7 linked regions of the Homo sapiens genome follow. The protein of the gene in region 5 purifies or fractionates together with the protein of the main gene of each other region. This does not show direct contact. Each region holds a gene or a part of one and is shown on either strand. Other genes may lie near its edges.

Region 1 (3,500 bases), on a different chromosome or scaffold from region 5:
ATGTTAAGATTCTTAGAAATACTGACTTAAATTCTGTTATGTATTTCTGAAAGGTTATTCTCGAATGTTGGTGGCATATAGGGAGGCAAGGGGAAGAAATAGTTTGTAAATGTCAGTAGGTTTAGCAGTGGTGTGGTAGATGGGGATTCCCAGTGGAGTCTTCTAGGATTTGTGATTGGATACAGATTGATACCCTTAGGCAGCAGCCACTGCTTCTAGCAGCTTTAAATAGCCATTTCAAGGCTTATTCAAGTATAAATAACCAGTAGCCAGTTTTTTCCTGATTTGATAGAGGAAGTCAGTCCTTGGTCTAGATGGGTACTTGTCATACAGTAGGAAAAAGGGCGGGGGCAGTTGTCCTTTATTCTGCCTCTGCACTATTCACATGTGGAGCACAGTGATTTGTGAGAGTATGTATAACCTTCGTGAACATCACTGGCCTCAGAACCCTCCCTTGCCAAATTTACCTGCATCTGTGCAAAGACAAGTGGAGATATTGATGATATGTGCATATCCCAGAGGGAATAGCGTTTGCTTTTTGATGCATGCCCACCCTTGCATAATTGGGAGGTTTTAACATAGCATATTTCACCATAAAGGAATTTTATTCTAAGAATGTTAATCAGAATATCCCTAAGTAACAGAAGTTCCCATCTGGTCAGTTGCAAGGTGACCAAAACACTTTCTTGGTTTGAGTATAGTCATATGTTCTGTCAAATGATGTTTTGGTCAACAGTGGACTTCATGTAAGGTAGTTAGTGGTCCTGTAAGATTAGAATGGAACTGAGAAATTCCTGTCACTTAGTGACATCATAGGCATAATGTCATAGTGCAATGCATTACTCTTGTTTGTGGTAGTGCTGGTGTAAACCTATTGCACTGCCAGTTGTGTAAAAGTACAACAGGCCACGCGTGGTGGCTCATGCCTGTAGTCCCAGCACTTTGGGAGGCCAAGGCAGGTGGACCACTTGAGGTCAGGAGTTCGAGACCAGCCTGGCCAACATGGTGAAACCCCATCTCTACTAAAAATACAAAAATTAGCTGGGCTTGGTGGCATGCATATGCCTGTAATCCCAGTTACTCAGGAGGCTGAGGCAGGAGAATCACTTGAACCTGGGAGGTGGAGGTTGCAGTGAGCAAAGATTGCACCACTGCTCTCCAGCCTGGGCGAAAGAGTGAGACTGCATCTCCAAAAAAAAAAAAAAAAAAAAAAAAAAGTATAACACAATTATATAGAGTACATAATACTTGATAATGGTAATAAACAGCTATGTTATATATTTACCTTTTTTTTTTCTTTTTTTTGAGACAGAGTTTCGCTCTTGTTGCCCAGGCTGGAGTGCAGTGACGCGATCTCAGTTCACCACAACCTCTGCCTCTCAGGTTCAAGTGATTCTCCTGCCTCAGCCTCCTGAGTAGCTGGGATTATAGGCGTGCACCACCACACCTGGCTAATTTTTTGTATTTTTAGTAGAGACGGGGTTTCACCGTGTTAGCCAGGATGGTATTGATCTCCCGACCTCAGGTGATCCGCCTGCCTCGGCCTCCCAAAGTGTTGGGATTACAGGCTTGAGTCACTACGCAGGGCCCTGGAATATATTCTTATTTTAAAAAACTAGTTAAAACCGACTCAGGCATGTCCTTCAGGTGGCATTCCAGGAAAAAAAGCTTCGTTATCCTGGGAGGTGATGGCTCCATGCATGTTACTGCCCCTGAAGACCTTCCAGTGAAGATGTGGAGGCGGAATATAGTGTTACTGATGATCCTGACTCTGTAGGCCTAGGCTAATGTGTGTGTATATGGCTTAGTTTTTAACAAAAGTTTAAAAAGTGAAAAATATTTTTAAAAATAGGAAAAGGCTTAATAGGATAAGGATATAAAGAAAATATTGTACAGCTGTATGATATGCTTTTGTTTTAAGCTAATCGTTACTAGAAAATTCAAAATGTTTAAAAATTTTTTTAAGTTTCTAAAGTAAAAAATGTTAAGTAAGCAAAGGTTAATTTATTCTTGAAGAAAGAAAAATATTTTTATCTTTATTACTGTATATACATTGTGCCTTTTCTGTGTTTAGATATGTTTAGATATACAAGCACATTGTGTTACAGTAGCCTGCAGTATTCAGTACAGTAACATACTGTGCATCATGCTTTGTAGCCTAAGAGCAATAGACTATACCATCTAGGTTTGTGTAAGTCCACTCTGTGATGTTTGCACAACAACAAAATCACCTCACTGTGCATCTCTCAGGAAGTTTCCCTTTGGTAAATGATGCATAACTGGACTTGTCTGACACCATTTTAACCTTCCCCCTAGTCCTACCTCTCATTCTCAAGATTTGGAGAAATCAAAATCTAAGTTTTCATAATAAAAGGTTAGGTATATTGGGTGTTACATAGCTTTCACTAATGTCATATCTAGCAGTTGTAATCACGTATTTTAAAACTTTAAATAGTAAATTAAGAAGGAATCTTTATAGGTACTTGTATGTTTCCTCAATGTGGTTTGAATTGAGCGTTTTATTTAAATTACTATCAAATACTTGAGCCAAACTAGCGAGACAAAAAGACCAGACCTTTTCTTTTTTCCGAGATGGAGTCTCACACTGTTGTCCAGGCTGGAGTGCAGTGGTGCAGTCTCGGCTCACTGCAGCCTCCGCCTCCTGGGTTCTAGCGATTCTCCTGCCTCAGCCTCCTGAGTAGCTGGGATTACAGGCGCCTGCCACCATGCCCAGCTAATTTTCTGTATTTTTAGTAGTAGAGATGGGATTTCACTAAATCTCGAACACCTGACCTTGTGATTTGCCCACCTTGGCCTCCCAAATTGCTGGGATTACTGGGGTGAGCCACCGCGCCCGGCCGAGACCAGACTTCTGAGGGGGAGAAACTTGCAAACCTGTCAGTGAGAAAGAGTGAGGTCTGATTTTAGATGACAGAAAGGAATAGCTTTTGTGAATTTCGGACTCCCAACTACTAGAATTATGTGAATCCTGAATGATAATCAGATGTTTACTCAGTTAAGTGTTTACTCAAATATTAATAAGTATTGATACATTGGGATGCCATCTTATATAATGATTAACGACACAGATTCTGGGTGTATTTCAGCCCCAGTTTCTTCTGCATATATGATAGTAAGTGCCTTCAAACAATTCTTGACACATTAAAGGTCAGAAAATGTTAGCCGTCATTATTGCTTAGTACAAACCTGAGCTAGGAAATACTAACAGAGAGCTCTTTGTGCCACTGAGTCCTGGAACTTCCCCATACTAATTTTGAGAAGGCTTTCTTGTAAGTATGTGACAGATACTGTTTCCTCCACTTTCTGTTTATTGCATATAACCACTATTCTTGTATGTAAGTACGTATAACAGTTTCTTTACTATTCCCATTATTCAGCGTTTATAATCTGGTTTGACATATCAGTGTTGGTGCTGAGAGGGAAAGGTATTTCTAGGTAGGATAAAATGGTGAAAAGTGATTTAACACTGTTGTATGCTT
Region 2 (2,288 bases), on a different chromosome or scaffold from region 5:
TCCTGGGAAGAGGAACTCCATGCCACACATTTTGCTGTCCCTGGCATTTCCCCACTGGGCCCTCCTCCGGTGTCAGTTTAGGGTGGAGACATCTGGCATCACCAACATCCACTGGGCAAGTCACCCTCGTCAGGACCCCAGGGGAGGGGAGGCCCTGGCAGGAGACAAAGTGATGAACCCTGGCCACTGCTCTTGGCTCCCATCCCCATCAGGGGACGCCCGCAGGCCTGAGGTCCTAGGACCCAGGAGTTTAAAGTCAAGGACAAGCGGCAGCCTTCCATCCCTCCCTGCCACAGGGGCAGCTTGACCAGGGCCCACCCCAACTGCGCTGGCTGACTTCCACGCTGCCCTTGGCAGGTGCTGGGGTCCTCTCGCTTCCTGTGGGGTGGGCTGGGGAGACGGGGGGTCTGGCCTGCATTGGGGAACGTGCAGCGAGAGGGGCCTCAGCCTAGGAGCTGGCGCCTGGCGGAAAAGAAAGAAGACAGAGGCGCAGCGGCAGGTTTCTGTACAGGAAGTCAGATTATACATTTCAGTAACGGGCGGGGTGACGGGGACGGGGCAACAGCGCAGGGGCCACAGGGAGAAGAAGAGATCGAGAGCTGGGGTTTGGCGTAAATCTTACAAAGTGTATAAAGAATCTGTGTTTCTCTACATTAACAAAAACCAAAGGCTACAAGAGCGGTTGTATATACAAAACACGGAGATATTGCTTCACTTGCAAACAGGTTCCAGACCAGATGGGGAGACGAGACAGAGGAGGGGGACAGGGAGGGCCGAGAGGGCGCGTTGCGTGCAGGAGAGGGGAGGGGAGAGGGGAGAGGGGGGGACGGGCTTCTCCCTGCATCAATCAACAGGCAGAGGTGGGAGGCCTGTGCGAGCTGCTGTGTGCGGAGGAGCGGGTGGGCGCTGAGAGCCCGGGGGGTCCGCCTGCCCCGGCCCCCGCTGCCTGGTTCTTCGGGCTTTGGCCCAGAGCACGGTTCTGGGTGGGGACGACGGGCTGGCTGGGCCACCCGGTCACGGAGGGAGGGAGGCAATCGCTCCCTAGAGTCGGCCAAGGAAAAGGGGAGAAGGCGGCGCCGTCCGCCCGTCCTCCTCGCCTCTGGCCAGCCCCGTCCATCCTGCCGCCCTCCCCACCCCGCCAAGACGCTGTGGGGACCCGAGTTTCATGGGTGCAGCAAACCGGGGCTTCTAGCTTTTCCCCGGGCAGGACGGGGTAGCACTGGCTCCTGTCCTTCCTGGGCCCCGGCCCGGCCGTGCAGAGCTCACTGGGAGGGCTGGAACGAGCCGGCCACAGAGGGACAGCAGGGAGGGGCCAGAGGATACCGTGGCGGGGGCGGGCGGAGGACGTGCACGCACGCTGGGTGGAGGCGCAGGGGTCACAGGTTCTGGCAGCACTGCAGCTTGTTGGGCTTCTGTCCGTCCGTGGTGGGCGGCACGCTGATGTCCACCACGTTGTTCCCCGGGGACTCGTCGTGGGCAGCGCGGTCTGCGATCTGTTTCTGTGACACGATGCGGTAGATCTCTGCAAAGGGGGTACAGGGGGACGTGGGGTGAGCCAGCACGTGCCCTGCCTGCCGAGGGGAACCCCTCCCTGCAGGACTCCAGAGGCCCTCTCCAGACCCCCACAGCGCCCCCATCACATCAGGGGTAACAAGGACAGGGGCTGCGCACCCAGCCAGGACCCACATCTGGTCACAGCCAGCCCCGGCCTCTCGCTCCCTAAGATCAGAAGCGCCCTCCTCCCTCAGAGGTAAACTCCCAGAAGCCAAAAGGCTCCAGGTCCCTGAGGCTACCCGCCTCCCCGCAGCGCCAAGAGTTAAGGCAGGGCCCATCCCCAGGAACTGGGGCCAGGGGGTCTCTGTGTCCCCAGTGCCAGCAAGGGCTAGACCTGGTCTGACCCTGTGAAGTGTCCAGGTGGACCGGCAGGTTTAAAAAGCAAAGGTTAGGGGTGGTGGTGGAAAAAAATCAAACAGGCCAGGTGCAGTGGCTCACGCCTGTAATCCCAGCACTTTGGGAGGCTGAGGCAGGAGGATCACTTGAGCCCAGGAGTTCGAGATCAACCTGGACAACATTGTGAAATCCTGTCTCTACTAAAAATTACAAAAATTAGCGGGTGTGGTGGCAGGCACCTGTAATCCCAGCTACTCGGGAGGCTGAGGCAGGAGAATTGCCTGAACCTGGAAGGCGGAGGTTGCAGTAAGCTGAGATCGAGCCACCACACTCCAGCCTGGGCAAAGAGCAAAAATCCATCCTGCCCCGACAAAAAAAAGAAAAAAACAAGCAAACGA
Region 3 (3,500 bases), on a different chromosome or scaffold from region 5:
GCACTGAAACCAAGTGTGTTATATTCAAAATAATTTGTGGATTTTATAACTCATCTAAATAAAGCTCCTCGCTACCTCATTTTGCATTACCTACGACTAGGACTCACGGATTATCAAAAACTCACTTTTCACAAGAAAGGACCCAGCTATTCCTCTATTTAGCTAGCTACCACACTCTTAATGTTCAAATGCAATCTGATTCACTATTTAACTATTTGAACACTCTTACATAATTGCTTTGGTACATAAAATCAGCAACTTCACAATTATTAACAATTACAGCATTTTACTTTTTCAACAATATCTATTCAAACTTCGATTGATAGAATTTCAATGTATAAATCACATTAAGGAGTATTTCAAGTTATATCTAAAATACTTACTGTTATTTGAAAGTAGTAAGTCCAAAGGTCACACCTCTCATACTGACATTGTTACATTAATTCCATATGATAGTAACTTAAGCTATTACATGATGGTAGATCACACACAATTCAGGGATGCTAGAAATGTTAAAAGCACACCTTCCAAAGACCCAAGCTAAATGGCAGATTTTGGCAAATTACTAAGGACAAAGGTGAACTTCTGAACATCCCTAAATTGGAGAGCAATTTGGCAGTGCCCACCAAAATTCAAATTGTACTTACCTTTGACATGGCTAGTCCATTTCTAGGAATTTATTGTAGATGTACAAAATGTTCTATTAACAAAATATTAACTATAGCACTGTTTCTTAAGCAAAAGATTGGAATGTCCATTAATATGGAGGCTGGTTAAATACCTTGTAATACTATGACAGGCTACATGTTTAGCGGTATTATGGCAGCAATCTCTGGAAAGTGACTCCCTGGGCTCTAATCCTGAGCCCTACCACTTATAAACTGTGTGACTGTTGGACATTTAATCATCCCGTGCCTAGTTTTCCTCATTTGTTAAATATAGAAAAATAGTGCCTATCTCATAGGTTGTTATGAGGCTTCCATGAGTTAATAAAACTAAAGTATTAAGAAAGCATTTGGATCAGGAGTAAGCTCTCAATAAATGTTACATATGATGATGAGGGTATATTAATACAATTGAATACTAAACTATCATTAAAAAGAATGAGGCAGTTTTAACTGTATCAATGTGAAAAGATCTCCAACGTAATACTCAAGCGAAAAATGTAAGGTCCAGAATAATACGAAGAGGTGCTACCATTTGTGGATAAATATATGGGGGAAGAAAAGAATAAGGATGAGGGGAGAGAAAACACACTTGTATGAATATATAAATTTTACCATATTTGTACATGTATTACCCATTCAACTGAATTAAAAATATTGTTGGATGAGTAAATGAATGTTAAAACAACTGAGCCAAGTAAAACTATTATATATTGCACCTAATTGACTGAGCAAATAATAGCACATATTATTATTACATATATATTTTTCTGAGACAGGGTCTGGCTCTGTCACCCAGGGTCTGCAGTGGCACGATCTCAGCTCACTGCAACCTCTGCCTCCCAGGCTCAAGCAATCCTCCCACCTCAGCCTCCCGAATAGCGGGAACTAGATGTGTGTGCCACCACGCCTGGCTAATTTTTTTTTTTTTTTTTTTTGTACAGACATGGTTTTGCCATGTTGCCCTTCAATTCCTGGGCTCAAGCAATCCGCCTGCATCGGCCTCCCAAAGTGCTGGGATTACAGGTGTGAGCCACTGCACCCAGCTGGCAAATATATATACGGTCCTTATGTGCTAGTTATTATTCCAATCGCTTCTATTATTCACAACATCCAATGAAGTTAAATACTCTTATTATCCTTATTTTAAAGTTGAGAAAAATGCAATGCAAAAAGACACAAGTAACTCCTCCAAAGTCACACCACTAGGAAGCAGAGCCAGGATTTGACTCACACAGTCTGGTTTCCTTCATCTCTTTGTTATATTAATACTACTCTAAAATTATTTTTATTTACATATATCCCAACTCTTGTAAAAAAAACTTTGGACAGCTTACATTAAAGCACATATATGCAATTAATAAAACTGGTAATGAAAAGGGGAAGTAATACCAATGTGAGAAAAAAATACAGCTACTTTAAGTATGCAACAAATCCAACTCTAAAGCATCTGCTATTTTCTGTCTAGGCTTTGAATGATGTATTCTACGGAGATACTTTTAAAAGGACAGAAATCAAGTATTAAACAATTATAAGTACTTTTTATTTTGCTTCTTTAAAGAAGTTCTTGTTTAAAGTTTTCTTAAGGCAAGTTAATCTTGTAATCCAGTTTATATGCCAAAACCCAAATAGGGACTTTTCTTATGATTCTGTCATATGATTAAGTCAGGTGACAGATCCCACACTTGTGCAATGTGCTCTACACTCTAAGGCAGAAAGCGTGTCGATAGCACTGACTATCCATACCAAAAATAACATGCCAAATTTGTAATCCTATCTAGTAGTCCCTATCATTTTTTGGTACATTTTTCTTTTCTTTTTTTTTTTCTTACTTTTGAGACAGGGTGTCGCTCTGACGCCCAGGCTGGAGTGCAGTGGCACATTCGCAGTTCACTGAAACCTTGAATGCCCCGGGATCAAGTGATCCTCCCACCTCAGCCTCTTGAGTAGCTGGGACTACAGGTGCATGCCATCGTGCCCAAATAATTTTTTTAATTTTTAGTTTTTACTGGTAGAGGGGGGTCTTGCCATGTTGCCCAGGATGGTCTCCAACACCGGGCTCAAGCGATCTACCTGCCTCAGCCTCCCAAAGTGCTGGGATTACAGGCGTGAGCCACCATGCCCAGCCTGTTTTTCCTAATTACAGAAACACTTCATGTCCACTGTAAAAATAAAAACATATAATGTAAAGTGTAAGGAAGAAAGTAAATCATCTTAGTGCCCATTGTTTCCCATAATCCATCATATACACAGACATGTACAAACATGTAGTTTTATATAAATATGTTACTATGGATATTCTGTCTCTTTCCTTTTCTGCTTATTTCCTCTTTCCAACGGTGACAACCAGGTAAAAATATACAAAACTCATGGTGTTTTTCAACTGGTTTTATAAAAAATGAGTTATCATTACAAATGTTTCTCTGTACTTTGTATTTTTTTTTCTTAAGATACATGATGGCCTGGGCAATAAGGTGAAACCCCGTCTCTACCAAATATACAAAAAATTAGCCAGGTGTGGTGGTGCACACCTGTAGCCCCAGCTACTCTGGAGGCTGAGGCGGGAGGATAGCTTAAACCTAAGAGGAGGAAGTTGCAGTGAGCCAAGACAGCACCAGTACACTCCAATCTGGGTAACAGAGCAAGATCCTGTCTCAGGAAAAAAAAAAAAAAAAAGACACATGATAGAAATCCTTTCAGAATGTACTTGGAAATCCTTTCTAATCACCAGTAGATTTAACTCCTACCATTTAATCACTTCACAACATTCCATAAAATGCCTCGGCCATAATTTACATAACAATACCCCTATTAACAGGCATTCCCTTTGTTTCC
Region 4 (3,500 bases), on a different chromosome or scaffold from region 5:
GTTCCATGATTTAAGTACTGAGAGAGAAAGCAAAGGCAGTGTTTTCGGATGGTGATCTGGCTCCAAGGATGAGAAAAGGCATGGCATGGCAGAAGCAAGTAGCAGAAAATGCCACATAGACAACAATGATTCTCAGCTACTGCTCTGTATTGCGGAAGAAATCGGTCTAATAGTAAAGGGCTACCTTTTTTTTTTTTTTAAACCAAGTCTCGCTCTGTCACCCAAGGTGGAATACAGTGGTGTGATCTCAGTTCTCTGCAACCTCTGCCTCCTGGTTCAAGTGATTCTCCTGCCTCAGCCTCTTGAGTAGCTGGGACTACAGGCTCCTGCTACCACACCCAGCTAATTTTTATATTTTTAGTAGAGATGGGGTTTCGCCAAGTTGGCCAGGCTGGTCTTGAACTCCTGACCTCAGGTGAGTCACCTGCCTTAGCCTCCCAAAGTGCTGGGATTAGAGGCATGAGCCATCGCGCCTGGCCTACTTTTTTCTTTTTAAGACAGATGGCTAACATGGGTATGAGAATGGAACATTTTAATTATTTGGATATTGGCCAAAAATAAAGTTTGAGAAAAATGACAGGAAACAAACAGGAAGAATGTGCCTGATACAGAATGCCTGAGGGCATTCTGGACTTAACAATGGGAGCAGTACTCGATAATTCTCAAGGTACAGCAACCAGATTTGGATTCCATTCAAATGCCAAAAACAACCATGAATGGGAACGCCAATTTGGGAAGAAACATAAACATCACGGAAGAATTATGAACTAGGCAATATTAGATTGTCATTAGGTGAAGCTTGAATCGGCCTCTGGGCTGTTTTAGAGGTTCGGATGAGTTCAAGCTGTAGGGTGCAAACAATTTTCACTCAAAGGACACAAGAATATCTGGCCTACCAGTCTAAGTGAACAATATAACCAAGTTAATGACAGGTTTAAAGAGTTTCCTTTATATATATATATATATATATATATATTATACTTTGAGTTCTAGGGTACATGTACACAATGTGCAGGTTACATATGTATACATGTGCCATGTTGGTGTGCTGCACCCATTAACTTGTCACTTACATCAGGTATATCTCCTAATGCTGATCCCTCCCCCAACCCCACAACAGGTTTAAAGAGTTTCTAGAATCCTGGCACGTGCTGAAACATACCTGAGAGGTTGAGGTCTGCAAGGATGACATTGGTCAGGAACCCATGCATGTCAAAATGAATCCTGCCATTTTTCACACTGTCAGTGATGATGGCCTTCACTGAGCCTAGGGCAAGCATGCATGCCTCATGGATCTTCCACCTGTGAAAGGATACTACAGCCTAGTAAAACATACTAAACTGCCAAAAGAGATAAATATTTGAGGAAACAAGATTCAGAAAAGGGCACTCCAGCACAATCTCTTCCAAAAGAGTCATTTACCTTAAGCCCTTCCATTCTAACCTATAGCTGAAAAGAGTGAAATTTTAATAATAAGAGATTAAAATCTGTTATTAAATTAAAACCAGATTTTCAAATTAAGATAAAAATAAATCCATCCTTTCAAGACTTTTTAAGAAGGGGTAAACAAAAGCATCTTAACCAATTAGCGGCTCACTCTTACCAGTGCTCAGTGCCACTGTTTTTGGTTTGCTCAGCTTCTTGTAAATGTCGAGTGGCTGCAGCAGCCAGGGCTGCTGCACTTTCATTCTGGAAATCTGTGGCCACAGCCTATAGAGAGAGAAGAGCTAATAAATCTGTTTGTGCCCATTAAATGCATTTTAATTGTAAACCGCTTCAGTCATGACTGTTAGAAGTGATTGGTTCAAGCTCTTTCACATACATGTGCAAACCCCTAATTGTATTAAAAATGTTATACCAGTAGGTCAGGGTCTCTAATGAAATTAAAGTAGTATCTGTATTTCGGTAGTGCCTAGGCATTGTAAGGCTAACCAGTTGGCTCCTTTGGCTATATTCAGCAGAGCATAAGTGAGCAATAATAGATCTAGCTTTGGATGACAATGGACCAAATATTTGCTCTCTTGGAGACTGATGATAGAAAAATAAGTCTAATCTACTAATTGGAACTGAATATAATCTTTCACAGCTCCTTAGAAATACTAAATGATAATGAGAAGTGATTCATCAACAGAGAACAAATCTCCTACCCAACAAGAAGCAAGTGGCAGTTTCTTCTTAGTATTTCAGCCTAGAGACAACTCTATGCTCTAGTCAGAAGAGGCAAAGAAAACATGAGCAGGTATTTGGATGTTAATCTTTCAGCAATCTGTTTTGTTTTGCTAGGTTTGCCAACCTTTTGTCTGTGCTATAGATTCTTGTTGAAGAGTGAATTAAACTGAAATGGCTTTTTTTTTTTTTTTTGAGACCAAGTTTCACTCTTGTCGCCCAGGCTGGAGCGCAATGGTGTAATCTTGGCTCACCACAACCTCCGCCTCCCGGGTTCAAGCAATTCTCCTGCGTCAGCCTCCCGAGTAGCTGGGATTACAGGCATGCGCCATCACGCCCGGCTAATTTTGTATGTTTAGTAGAGATGGGGTTTCTCCATGTTGGTCAGGCTAGTCTTGAACTCTGGACCTCAGGTGATCTGCCCGCCTCGGCCTCCCCAAGTGCTGGGATTACAGGTGTGAGTCACCACGCCCAGCCATAAACTGAAATGTTCTTGATTCAACTACCCTTACTCCATGGAACACTTTATCCTCTATACAATTCTCCCCCGCACCCCGGCCCTATGGTCTGCACAATTCTTTTATCTAATATTTAGTTTTAAGTTAGAACCAGTAGCAATGATTTTAGAATTTCTGAGTCTCGAATTTCATTTCAGAAACTCTCTTGCATCCCCAATAAAGTCTGAGATAAAGCCACCCAACAACACTGCTCACCTTGGATTAGTTGTCTACAAAAAAGAAGAAATGCTCAAGTGACTGATAGAAATTATGTGGCTGAAGTATCAAGGTAAACTTACCAGCAACAAGTCTTGAGCTGCTATTCTAACAGTATAGGAGAATGTATCATCATCTTCATCTTCTACAAATTGTTGGGGGTTGGCTGTCCATACTTTAATCTGAAAAGATCAAGTTATGTCTTTGTGATGCTGCCAATCTGATTCATAGCTTTTCATCAACAGATACAGGAAGATTTCAACCTATTATCCTGAAAAAACTCTAGCCTTTTGCTGGATGCAATGGCTCACAACTGTAATCCTGACACTTTGGGAGGCCAAGGTGGGAGGACTGCTTGAGCCCAGGAGTTTGAGACCAGCCTGGGCAACATAGTGAGACCCCACCTCTACAAAAAATAAAAAAGTCAACTGGGCATGGTGGCATATGCCTGTGGTCTCAGCTACTCGGGAGGCTGAGGCAGGAGGATGGCTTGAGCCTGGGAGGTCAAGGCTGCCGTGAGCTTTGTCTACACCACTGCACTCCAGCCTGAGCAAAACAGCAAGACCCTGTCCCAAAAAGCAAACAAAACAAAACAACAACAACAACAAAAACTGAAACAAA
Region 5 (3,500 bases):
ACGATGAGCTGGTGTTCCTCAGCCCCCTGATGTCCTTGTTGGTTGTTATCAAAGTCATGGGAGGAAATGGGGAGAATCTTAGCTATGTCCCAGGTCCTAAAAGGCTAAATAACTTGCCAAGGGCCACACAGTGTTAGAGAACAGAACATTTCTTCTGGAACCCAGCAGTTTCTGACTCCAGGTTTTGGTTTCCTCACCTGACCAGGCTTCATAACATCCTCGTGTTTTCACCCTTACCTCTTGTCCCACAGGAGTCTGAGGGGGGCCTCTACATCTGTATGAACACGTTTCTGGGCTTTGGGAAACAGTATGTGGAGAGACATTTCAATAAGACCGGCCAGCGAGTCTACTTGCACCTCCGGCGGACCCGGCGCCCGGTAGGAGCAGGGCTGGGGCAAGGCCTGGGTACATTGTCTGTTCCATTCTGACCTCCTATTGGACTCAGTTTCTTTTTTTCACCTACTTTTGTGTCATTAAAGCTTGGCACAGATGTTTTTTAGCTTTATTCCGTTCTGAGATGAAGCACTACCTCCTTCCGTCCCTCCTCCCGACTTGTTCCTTCGCTCGTGCTCATTGCTGATCCAGCCCTTCCTGCTTCTTTACAGAAAGAGGAGGACCCTGCTACAGGCACTGGAGACCCACCCCGGAAGAAGCCCACGCGGCTGGCTATTGGTGAGCACCGCTGCAGTCCTATTCTTCTCCCTGAGCTGGTCTTTCTGGCTCTCAGCAGCACCAGGAAAGCCCCAAAGAGTGGGCCTGATTGATGGCCCTAGAACTCTGGATGGGGCAAGTGAGGTGCTGGCTCGGAGGAGGGACATTGACCTGTTGTCATTGCTCTACTCTCCCTCTTCTTCCCTATCCTTCCAGGTGTTGAAGGCGGATTTGACCTTAGCGAGGAGAAGTTTGAATTAGACGAGGATGTGAAGATTGTCATTTTGCCAGATTACCTGGAGATTGCCCGGGATGGACTGGGGGGACTGCCTGACATTGTCAGAGATCGGGTATGACTGCCCCCTATGCTACCCAAGATTCTAGAGCAAGATGGGCCAGGGTAGTGGTGTCTTAGGCAAGCACTGACAAAGCTGAAGGCCAAGGGGAAGAGGGGCATGTGGGGCAGGGGGTTGGGTATTGCCTCTGACCCTCTGCTTCCCCCAGGTGACCAGTGCAGTGGAGGCCCTACTGTCGGCCGACTCAGCCTCCCGCAAGCAGGAGGTGCAGGCATGGGATGGGGAAGTACGGCAGGTGTCTAAGCATGCCTTCAGCCTCAAGCAGTTGGACAACCCTGCTCGAATCCCTCCCTGGTGAGGCCTGGCCCCTCTGCCTCGGGCACCACCCCCAGAGCAAGGACAAGGAGCCCACTTTTCTGGGGGATCTGGTGGGAGAGAGGGTAGGGAGCAGGACAGGAAGGGAAGCTTGGAAATGAACACGACATGGGGATGGCCAGAGGAGAAGAGAGAGAGACCTTGGATTGGCGGGGGGCCTGCAGAGCCCTCTCTCTCTGCCACTCCCTCAAATCCCCGACCCACATTTCTGCTGATTCTCTTCTCTGTGGGTTAGTGGCTGGAAGTGCTCCAAGTGTGACATGAGAGAGAACCTGTGGCTCAACCTGACTGATGGCTCCATCCTCTGTGGGCGACGCTACTTCGATGGCAGTGGGGGCAACAACCACGCTGTGGAGCACTACCGAGAGACAGGCTACCCGTTAGCTGTCAAGCTGGGCACCATCACCCCTGATGGAGCTGGTACAGCCTCCCCTCCTCCAGCCACTCTCATGCTTAAATATATTTCATTTGTTAGTAATTTCGTGTGACATGTATAATACATGAATGCATTATCTTGATAAGAAAGGAAAGTAGTCAGGTGCGGTGGCTCATGTTTGCAATCCCAACACTTTGGGAGGCCAAGGCAGGAGAATTGCTTGAGCCTAGGAGTTCGAGACCAGCCTGGGCAACATAGTGAGACCTCATCTCTCCAAAAAAGAAAAAAAAAGAAAAATTGGCTGGGTGTGGTAGCTCCTGCCTGTAGTCTCACCTACTCAGGAGGCTGAGGCAGGAGGATTGTTTGAGCACCCGGGAGGTTGAGGCTGCAGTGAGCTATGATTGCACCACTGGACTCCAGCCTGGGCTACAGAGACCCTGTCTCAAAAAAGGAAAATACTGCAGATGAGACTAAATTTTTGATTACTCCCCACTCAAATCCTCATCCCTTTCCTACCAAGCCTGTCTTACCTTATCCTATACAGGTAGAATCAGAATCACAAGTAATTCCAACCCTCACCCGGTTTCATCTGTCTTCCCTGACCGTCAGCCCCAGAAGGGCCATGACCGCACTCATATTACTCATATTCAAGGGAACCAAGAGGGTGGACCTTACTGGCTCTCCTTCTGTCCCCTCAAGTCCCTTCTGTGCAAGGGATGGGATGGTGGCCTGGCTAGTCCTGAGCCACTTCCCCTGATTCTCTTCCTGCCTCCTGCTCTAGACGTGTACTCATATGATGAGGATGACATGGTCCTGGACCCCAGCCTGGCTGAGCACCTGTCCCACTTCGGCATCGACATGCTGAAGATGCAGAAGGTGAGACCCCCTTCAACTTCAGATTCTTCTACTTCCTGCCCCTGTGAGGGCCCTTCCTCTTTGCCTGAGGCTGAGGTAGGGTTTTGGAGAAATCTTCTAGTTAACCCCATCCCCAAGATACACAGGCTTCTTTTAAATATCTAAAATCATTTATTCAGTGAATAGTACTGAGTACCTACTATGTGCTAGAGGCTGTGTGAATAAGACAGATGTGGTTTTTGCTTACAAGAGTTCTACTCTAGAAGAAAAGGCAGACATTAGTCACATTCCCAGATAAATAAGTGAATAGTTGCAAACTGGTGGGCACTGTGAAAGAGAGGCGGAGGGTACTACAGTAATTGACAGCAGGGTGGCCTGGCCTAGTTTAGGGATCAGGGACATTTCCCTGAGGAAGCGATGCTTAACTGACAATGTGAAGGAGGTTAGGGGTAACTTAAGGATGGGAAAAACATTTCAGGTAGAAGGAAATTTTATTCCTCATTCAAGCAGAGGCCCTGATGACTAACGGGCCTCTGGGACAATTATGTGTGGCCTTCCAGAACTTGAACTGGACGATACTCAACATACCTCCCATGTTTGAGCCTGTAATTCCACAAATTCTAGGCCACAGTTGAGTATCATCCTAGACTCAGTGAGAGATCGAGGTAAAAACTACAGGGTTGAGTTTCTCACTCAGTCTGAAGTGCCCCTTCTCACACAGACAGACAAGACGATGACTGAGTTGGAGATAGACATGAACCAGCGGATTGGTGAATGGGAGCTGATCCAGGAGTCAGGTGTGCCACTCAAGCCCCTGTTTGGGCCTGGCTACACAGGCATCCGGAACCTGGGTAACAGCTGCTACCTCAACTCTGTGGTCCAGGTGCTCTTCAGCATCCCTGACTTCCAGAGGAAGTGAGTAGTGCCCTCTCCTTCCCCAGGCCCCC
Region 6 (3,500 bases), on a different chromosome or scaffold from region 5:
ATAGTACTTATTGTATACAGATTATGTTCCAATTCTTCAGTTGGGTATAGGGTTCACTGGTGTTGATTTAATTTTATGCTTTATGACATATATGTCACATATATTCTTTTGTATACCCAAAATATTGCCAAATTAAACATCTTTAAAAAGCAAAAGGTAGCCAGGCATGGTGGCTCATGCCTGTAATCCAAGCACTTTGGGAGGCTGAGGCAGGCAGATCACCTGAGGTCAGGAGTTCAAGACCAGCCTGGCCAACATGGTAAAACCCCGTCTCTACTAAAAATACAAAAATTAGCCAGGCATGGAGGCACGCAACTGTAATACCAGGTACTGGGGAGGCTGAGGCAGGACAATTGCTTGAACCTGGGAAGTGGAGGCTGCAGTGAGCCAAGATTCCACCATTGCATCCAGCCTGGGCAACAGGGCAATACTCCATCCCCCTCCCCCAAAAAAAAATTAAAAAAAAAAAAGCAAACAGCCCTCAATAGGCAAAACAATCTTATAAAAGAACAAACATGGAAGACTCATAATTCATGATTAAAAACTTATTATAGTAGGCCGAGCACAGTGGTTCACACCTGTAATCCCACTACTTTGGTAGGCCAAGGCGGGCGGATCACCTGAGGTCAGGAGTTCGAGACCAGCCTGACCAAAATGGCAAAACCCTGTCTCTAGCATGGTGGCGCATGCCTGTAATCCCAGCTATTCAGGATGCTGAGGCAAGAGAATTACTTGAACCTGAGAGAAGGAAGTTGCAGTAAGCTGAGATCGTGCCACTGCACTCCAGCCTGGGTGACAGAGTGAGACTCTTTCTCAAAAAAAAAAAAAAACCAGAAAACTTATTACAAAGCTATGGTAATCAAAACAGTGCAGTGTTCCATAAAGATAGTCATACAGACCAACCAAATAGAATTGAGAGTTCACAAATAAATCTATTCATCTATGACCAATTGATTTTCTAGAAGAGTGCCAAGACCATTCAACAGGGAAAGAATAGTATTTTCAACAAACAGTGCCAGGATAACTGTATTTCTACATTCAAAAGAACTAAGTTAGACCCCTACCTCAAACCATATAAAAAAATTACTCAAGCTGGGTACAGTGGTTCACGCCTGTAATCCCGGCACTTTGGGACGCCGAGGCTGGCAGATCACCTGAGGTCGGGAGTTTGAGACCAGCCTGACCAATATGGAGAAACCCTGTCTCTACTAAAAATACAAAATTAGTCAGGCATGGTGGCGCATGCCTGTAATCCCAGCTACTTGGGAGGCTGAGAGAGGAGAATCACTTGAACCCAGGAGGCGGAGGTTGCAGTGAGCCGAGATTGCACCACTGCACTCCAGCCTGGATGACAAGAGGGAAACTCCGTCTCAAAAAACAAAAAAAAAAATTAACTCAAAATGGATCAATGACCTAAACACAGCACTAAGACCATTAACGCTCTTAGAAGAAAACACGGCAGTAAATCTTCATGGCCATAAGTTTGGATTCTTAATATGACACCAAAAACACAAGCAACAGAAGAAAAAACAGATAAACCAGACTTCAAAATTAAAAACTTTTGTGCATCAAAGGGATGCACAAAATCTACAGAAAGGAAGAAAGCATTTGCAAATCATATATCTGATAAGTGTTTAATATCCAGAATGCATAAAGAACTCCTAGAACTCAATAAGAAAAAGACAACACAATATAAAAATAGGCAAAGGACTGAACAGACATTTCTCTAAAGAAGATGTACAGATGACCAACAAGCAACATTCAAAGATGTTCAATATCATTAGTCATTAAGGAAATACAAATCAAAACCACTATGAGATACCATTTTATACTCCCTTGGATGGCCATAATCCAAAAAAAACCAGAAAATAACTAGTGTTGGTAAAGATGTGGAGAAATTGGAACCCTGCACAATGCTGGTGGAAACGTAAAATGGTGCAGCCATTTTGGAAAAAAATTTGTCAGTTTCCCAAAAAGTTAAACATAGACTCACCATTTGTCCCAGCAATCACGCTCTTTTGTATATACCAAACATTGCCAAATCAAGTATTGAGTATATACACTCCTAGGTATATACTCAAAAAAACTGAAGACAGGGACACAAACAGATACTTGCACATCAGTGTTCACTGCAGCATTATTCCCAATAGCCAAAGGGTAGAAACAATCCAAGTGCCTATACGAAATGTGGCATATACATACAATGGAGTATTACTCTGCTATGGAAAGGAATGAAGTTCTGATGTGCTTTAACAAGGATGAACCTTGAAAACCTTACACTAAGTGAAATAAGCCAGACAAAAAGGACAAATATTGTATGATTCCACTTATATGAAATATCCAGAATAGGCAAATTCATAGAGACAGAAAGTAGATTCAGGCTATCAGCAATGGAAGGAAGTAGGGAATGGGCGTGTATTCCTTAATGTGTAGAGTTTTTATTTGGGGTGATGAAAAAATTTTGGAAATGGATAGTGGAGATGGTTGCACAACATTGTGAATGTAATTAATGCAACTAATTGTACACTTAAAAATTGGTAAGGCTGGGCGCAGTGGCTCATGCCTGTAATTCCAGCACTTTGGAAGGCCAAGGAGGGCAGATCACCTGAGGTCGGGAGTTCGAGACCAGCCTGATCAACATGGAGAAACCCCGCCTCTATTAAAAATATAAAATTAGCTGGGCATGGTGGCACATGCCTGTAACTGGGGAGTCTGAGGCAGGAGAATCACTTGAACCTGGGAGGCGGAGGTTGTGGTGAGCCGAGATCGTGCCATTGCACTCCAGCCTGGGCAACAAGAGCAAAACTGCGTATTAAAAAAAAAAAAAATATATATATATATATATATATATATATATATATATATATATATATATATATATAGTTAGGCTGGGTGCAGTGGCTCACACTTGTAATCCCAGTACTTTGAGAGGCCAAGGCAGGTGGATCACTTGAGGCCAAGAGTTTGAGACCAGCCTGGCCAACGTGGCAAAACCCTGCCTCTACTAAAAATACAAAAATTAGCCCAGTGTAGTGGCGTGCACCTGTAGTCCCAGCTACACAGGAGGCTGAGGCATGAGAATCCTTGAAGCCAAGAGGCGGAGGTTGTGGCGACTGAGATGGCGCCGCTTCACTCCAGCCTGGGCAACTGTCTCAAATAATAAAAATTTTTAAAAAATTGTTAAAATGGCAAATTGTTATACATAGTTCACCATAAGAAAAAAAATCTTGGGCTGGGCGTGGTGGCTCATGCCTGTAATCCCAGCACTTTGGGAGGCTGAAGTGGATGGATCATCTGAGGTGAGGAGTTCAAGACCAGCCTGGCCAATATGGTGAAACCCTGTCTCTACTAAAAATACAAAAATTAGGCCAGGCGCGGTGGCTCACGCCTGTAATCCCAGCACTTTCGGAGGACAAGGCAGGTGGATCACGAGGTCAGGAGATTGAGACCATCCTGGCTAACACGGTGAAACCCCATCTCTGATAAAAATACAAAAAATT
Region 7 (3,500 bases), on a different chromosome or scaffold from region 5:
CACAAAGACCAAAGGAGTTGTGTCTCTCATCAAAATCAACCCAGGAATGATTAAGTGGTAGCTCCAGGGCTCATCTTAATGGTTCTTGGACTGGGACATTGGTCTCTAGGAGAGTTGTCTACTTCTAATCTCAACACCCTACCTGCTAACCCTGCCTCAAGCAATGATACACTCCATAATTTTTACTTTCCATGCACAACTTTTGGTGATATATTCTATAATTTAATAATTTAGAAGAGGTTATGCTACAACTTAGTCACATAATATGATGATGAGCCTTGTACATTATAAATCCAGGGCATCTCTCTATCTGATCATTTATGAAATTATGTGTTAGGCCTGCTACAGGTGGTTTATATTTCATACCAGGTATAAAACTATTCTAAACCATCCACAAGAAAAAATTACAGGAAAATAAGGAAAAGAACAAACAATGATACTAAAATTATTTAAACAATTAGAATTTCAAAAAATAGGACAAAATTATATACATAGAAATACATAATCCTATTATGCCACTGCTCTACCCTAAACCATGGTCTGATAAAATTCTTCACTTTCTTTTAAAGATAGAAGCAGTAGAAAAAAATGAGAACATATTCAATGATAAAAATTTACTGATAAATTCAAGAAACAAAACTAGCACAGAATTTTATAAAATTTTCATTTCTATCCACTTAAGAAAACAATTTAGCATTAGAACATTATTTGGGGTCATGACATTCATAATTCCTAGATATTCCCTCCCTGTGCCCTTCTAACCTGATCCCTCTAATCTGTCACTTTAGAATTACAGCAAATTTCTGATTTGTACCCAAGTTCATGTGCAAAGAGCTAAGAAAACAAAGATACTTAAATAAGTAGTCACTCAATAAATAGTAAAGACTGCAAAAATTCATAGTATACATGAACAGCCTCTTTGAAGTACATGACTCTGTCCTTTACTTGGAAAACCCACTATGGAGTAGGCTTAAGGCAGAAAGCAGACTTCACCTAAACCTATATAATAGGATATAAAATTAGAAAGAAAAACTATGAATGATGCACAAAAACAGGATCGGTCATTGGAACAGCACTACACAACCTTTTTTGGCACCAGGGACCAGTTTTGTGGAAGACAATTTTTCCACAGACAGACTGAGGGGTGTTGGGATATGGTTTCGGGGTGAAACCGTTCCACCTCAGAAGATCACCAGGCATTAGATTCTCATAAGGAGCGCACAACCTAGATCCCTAACATGCACAGTTCACAATAGGGTTTGCGCTCCTAAGAGAATCTAATGCCCCCGCTGATCTGAGAGGAGGCGGAGCTCAGGCAGCAATGCTCACTGTGCAGCCAAGTTCCTAGCCAAGACCAGTTCCGGTACTGGTCTGTGGCCTGGCGGTTGGGGACCCCGGTATTAGAACATAGATTTGGTTGAAGCAAGAATTCAGTTACGAATGAAACCTAAGATTATATGTTTTTAATTCTAAAATGAGGAACTTTAACATGATACAACTGAAAAAGGTCTAATCCCAGATGTTGAAGCAACCAAGAACAATGTGATACGATACAGTGTGTTCCTAGGTTGAGATTTCAAACATAGAATTTAACACTGAACAACAAACAATGTGTATTCTAAGAATCAGTGCATTGCTATGAGAATGTCATGGTTTCTGTAGCACTTGTCAATATACTATGTGTGAAAGACAATGAGCGTATTGCAAGGAAGAAAAGTATGTAATGAGAATAAGTCTGAAGAATTTAGCAAGCCATGTAAGATATCCCAGCTGTGAAAAGAAAGCTACAAGAATTCCATGGAGTCATAAGGTATTATGAAACTTTAATGACGAAGTATACATCTTTTGCTTGAGCCCTTGTCTGACATAAATATCTAAGGAGGTAAGAAATCATTCCTAACATAATTAATTTTAGAGTGGAAGGAGAGTGGGGGGGATGAAAATGACAGATGGAAATAGTTATTTCCAACATTTGGTATCAGCTGCTGGGACAGCCAAATGTGCGCACACACCCACCCCATTTGGCAGGCTTTCTCTTCCAATAGTACATAAATGAATAGCCAAACAGCACAGGCAGACATCTGTAAAAGAATACGCAGCCCCAACTGGCAAATTGATGACAAGTTTCAAGGCATTGTAATATATCATTTTTAACTGTTCAACAATCATTTTGAGAATAAATTATAAATGTCTACTATGTGCCAAGAGCTGTGCTAGGCACTGGAAATGTATGCTCTGCCAAGAAAGAGACCTGTTAGATCAGTCCGGAAAACAGATAAATATACAAAAAGAAAATAAATATGATACAAACTCTAATAGGAAAATGCACAGAGAGCACATAAGAGGGGATGAGTTTCAGGAAGACTTCCCAAGGGAGAAAATACTTTAGTGGAATGTTAAAGGACAAATACTCATTACCTCAGCAGAAGATAGAGTTAAAGGAAATTTTATATATGGCAATGATTTTTCAAAATTTATGGAGCTAAAATGCATGACATTTCCAAGAGCCACATGTGCTTTGGCTGGAGTGCCCAATATGGTGGAGATGAGTATGAGAAATGATGGACAAGAAGCTGGTGCAGGTCACAAAAGACCTTTGTAAACCATGCTAGAGTTTGACTTCTCATGTTCATTCAAAAATCACTTCTCAGCACTATTGAATATTTTTTTAAAATTCAATTTCTTGAGGAATTTCACTTACAAATACTTCACTTATCCACAGGTCAATTTATTCAGCACCTCAACAACGTGAAACGTGGCTTAAGAATCAGGAAATAAACAAGAGTCTTTGGTCAGCCAAATTATAGACCCCAAACCTATGCACCACCATCATGTACTTCATAGAAGAGCTGTTTAATCTTCAAAGTCTATCTAATCTTTGTTCTCTAAATTCCTAATTATCACTTTTCTTTCATGAGAATAATTCACATAAAGATCTTATCTCTCTCTACTAGGCTATAAGATCTTTTAAGTATCCATTCATATTCATTTTGCATTACTGGTAGCTCCAAGCCAAGCTTAGGCTTGGCATTAGCTGGCACTCATATATTTGATGAGTGAATAAAACTTAGATCTTTTTTTTTTTTTTGAGATGGAGTCTCGCTCTGTTGCCCAGGCTGGAGTGCAGTGGCGCGATCTCAGCTCACTGAAAGCTCCACCTCCTGGGTTCACACCATTCTTCTGCCTCTGTCTCCCGAGTAGCTGAGACTACAGGCGCCCGCCACCACACCCGGCTAATTTTTTGTATTTTTAGTAGAGACAGGGTTTCACCGTGTAGCCAGGATGGTCTCAATCTCCTGACCTCGTGATTCACCCGCCTCGGCCTCCCAAAGTGCTCGGATTACAGGCTTGAGCCACCGTACCCGGCCAACTTAGATCTATTTTTTTAAAAAGCCTGGTTATTTAATTTTTTATGATTCATAAAAGTTATACCAGCAGCCAGCGTGATAATAAGGGAAGGGAGAGATGCAACATAATTCATAACGTAAAACAAACTGTGG

The links.
Region 1: the proteins of USP5 (region 5) and PPP1CB fractionate together in Homo sapiens (co-fractionation; one large-scale study listed by BioGRID). This does not show direct contact.
Region 2: the proteins of USP5 (region 5) and RAB11B fractionate together in Homo sapiens (co-fractionation; one large-scale study listed by BioGRID). This does not show direct contact.
Region 3: the proteins of USP5 (region 5) and ATP6V1A fractionate together in Homo sapiens (co-fractionation; one large-scale study listed by BioGRID). This does not show direct contact.
Region 4: the proteins of USP5 (region 5) and IPO9 fractionate together in Homo sapiens (co-fractionation; one large-scale study listed by BioGRID). This does not show direct contact.
Region 6: the proteins of USP5 (region 5) and DCTN5 fractionate together in Homo sapiens (co-fractionation; one large-scale study listed by BioGRID). This does not show direct contact.
Region 7: the proteins of USP5 (region 5) and ITM2B purify together in Homo sapiens (co-immunoprecipitation; one large-scale study listed by IntAct). This does not show direct contact.

What each region holds. Positions count from the first base shown.
Region 1 is NC_000002.12:28,758,330-28,761,829, forward strand, and holds part of PPP1CB (serine/threonine-protein phosphatase PP1-beta catalytic subunit), read left to right. Parts: intron 1-3,500. UniProt on the Homo sapiens protein: Protein phosphatase that associates with over 200 regulatory proteins to form highly specific holoenzymes which dephosphorylate hundreds of biological targets.
Region 2 is NC_000019.10:8,402,647-8,404,934, reverse strand, and holds the end of RAB11B (ras-related protein Rab-11B), read right to left. Parts: intron 1,523-2,288; coding exon 1,377-1,522; 3' UTR 501-1,376; downstream 1-500. UniProt on the Homo sapiens protein: The small GTPases Rab are key regulators of intracellular membrane trafficking, from the formation of transport vesicles to their fusion with membranes.
Region 3 is NC_000003.12:113,753,535-113,757,034, reverse strand, and holds part of ATP6V1A (V-type proton ATPase catalytic subunit A), read right to left. Parts: intron 1-3,500. UniProt on the Homo sapiens protein: Catalytic subunit of the V1 complex of vacuolar(H+)-ATPase (V-ATPase), a multisubunit enzyme composed of a peripheral complex (V1) that hydrolyzes ATP and a membrane integral complex (V0) that translocates protons.
Region 4 is NC_000001.11:201,856,657-201,860,156, reverse strand, and holds part of IPO9 (importin-9), read right to left. Parts: intron 3,062-3,500; coding exon 2,963-3,061; intron 1,711-2,962; coding exon 1,604-1,710; intron 1,303-1,603; coding exon 1,163-1,302; intron 1-1,162. UniProt on the Homo sapiens protein: Nuclear transport receptor that mediates nuclear import of proteins, such as histones, proteasome and actin. Serves as receptor for nuclear localization signals (NLS) in cargo substrates.
Region 5 is NC_000012.12:6,855,150-6,858,649, forward strand, and holds part of USP5 (ubiquitin carboxyl-terminal hydrolase 5), read left to right. Parts: intron 1-205; exon of another isoform or gene 206-251; coding exon 252-377; intron 378-479; exon of another isoform or gene 480-605; coding exon 606-672; intron 673-867; coding exon 868-1,001; intron 1,002-1,155; coding exon 1,156-1,301; intron 1,302-1,557; coding exon 1,558-1,742; intron 1,743-2,479; coding exon 2,480-2,574; intron 2,575-3,274; coding exon 3,275-3,468; intron 3,469-3,500. UniProt on the Homo sapiens protein: Deubiquitinating enzyme that participates in a wide range of cellular processes by specifically cleaving isopeptide bonds between ubiquitin and substrate proteins or ubiquitin itself.
Region 6 is NC_000016.10:23,644,466-23,647,965, reverse strand, and holds part of DCTN5 (dynactin subunit 5), read right to left. Parts: intron 1-3,500. UniProt on the Homo sapiens protein: Part of the dynactin complex that activates the molecular motor dynein for ultra-processive transport along microtubules.
Region 7 is NC_000013.11:48,250,206-48,253,705, reverse strand, and holds part of ITM2B (integral membrane protein 2B), read right to left. Parts: intron 1-3,500. UniProt on the Homo sapiens protein: Plays a regulatory role in the processing of the amyloid-beta A4 precursor protein (APP) and acts as an inhibitor of the amyloid-beta peptide aggregation and fibrils deposition. Plays a role in the induction of neurite outgrowth.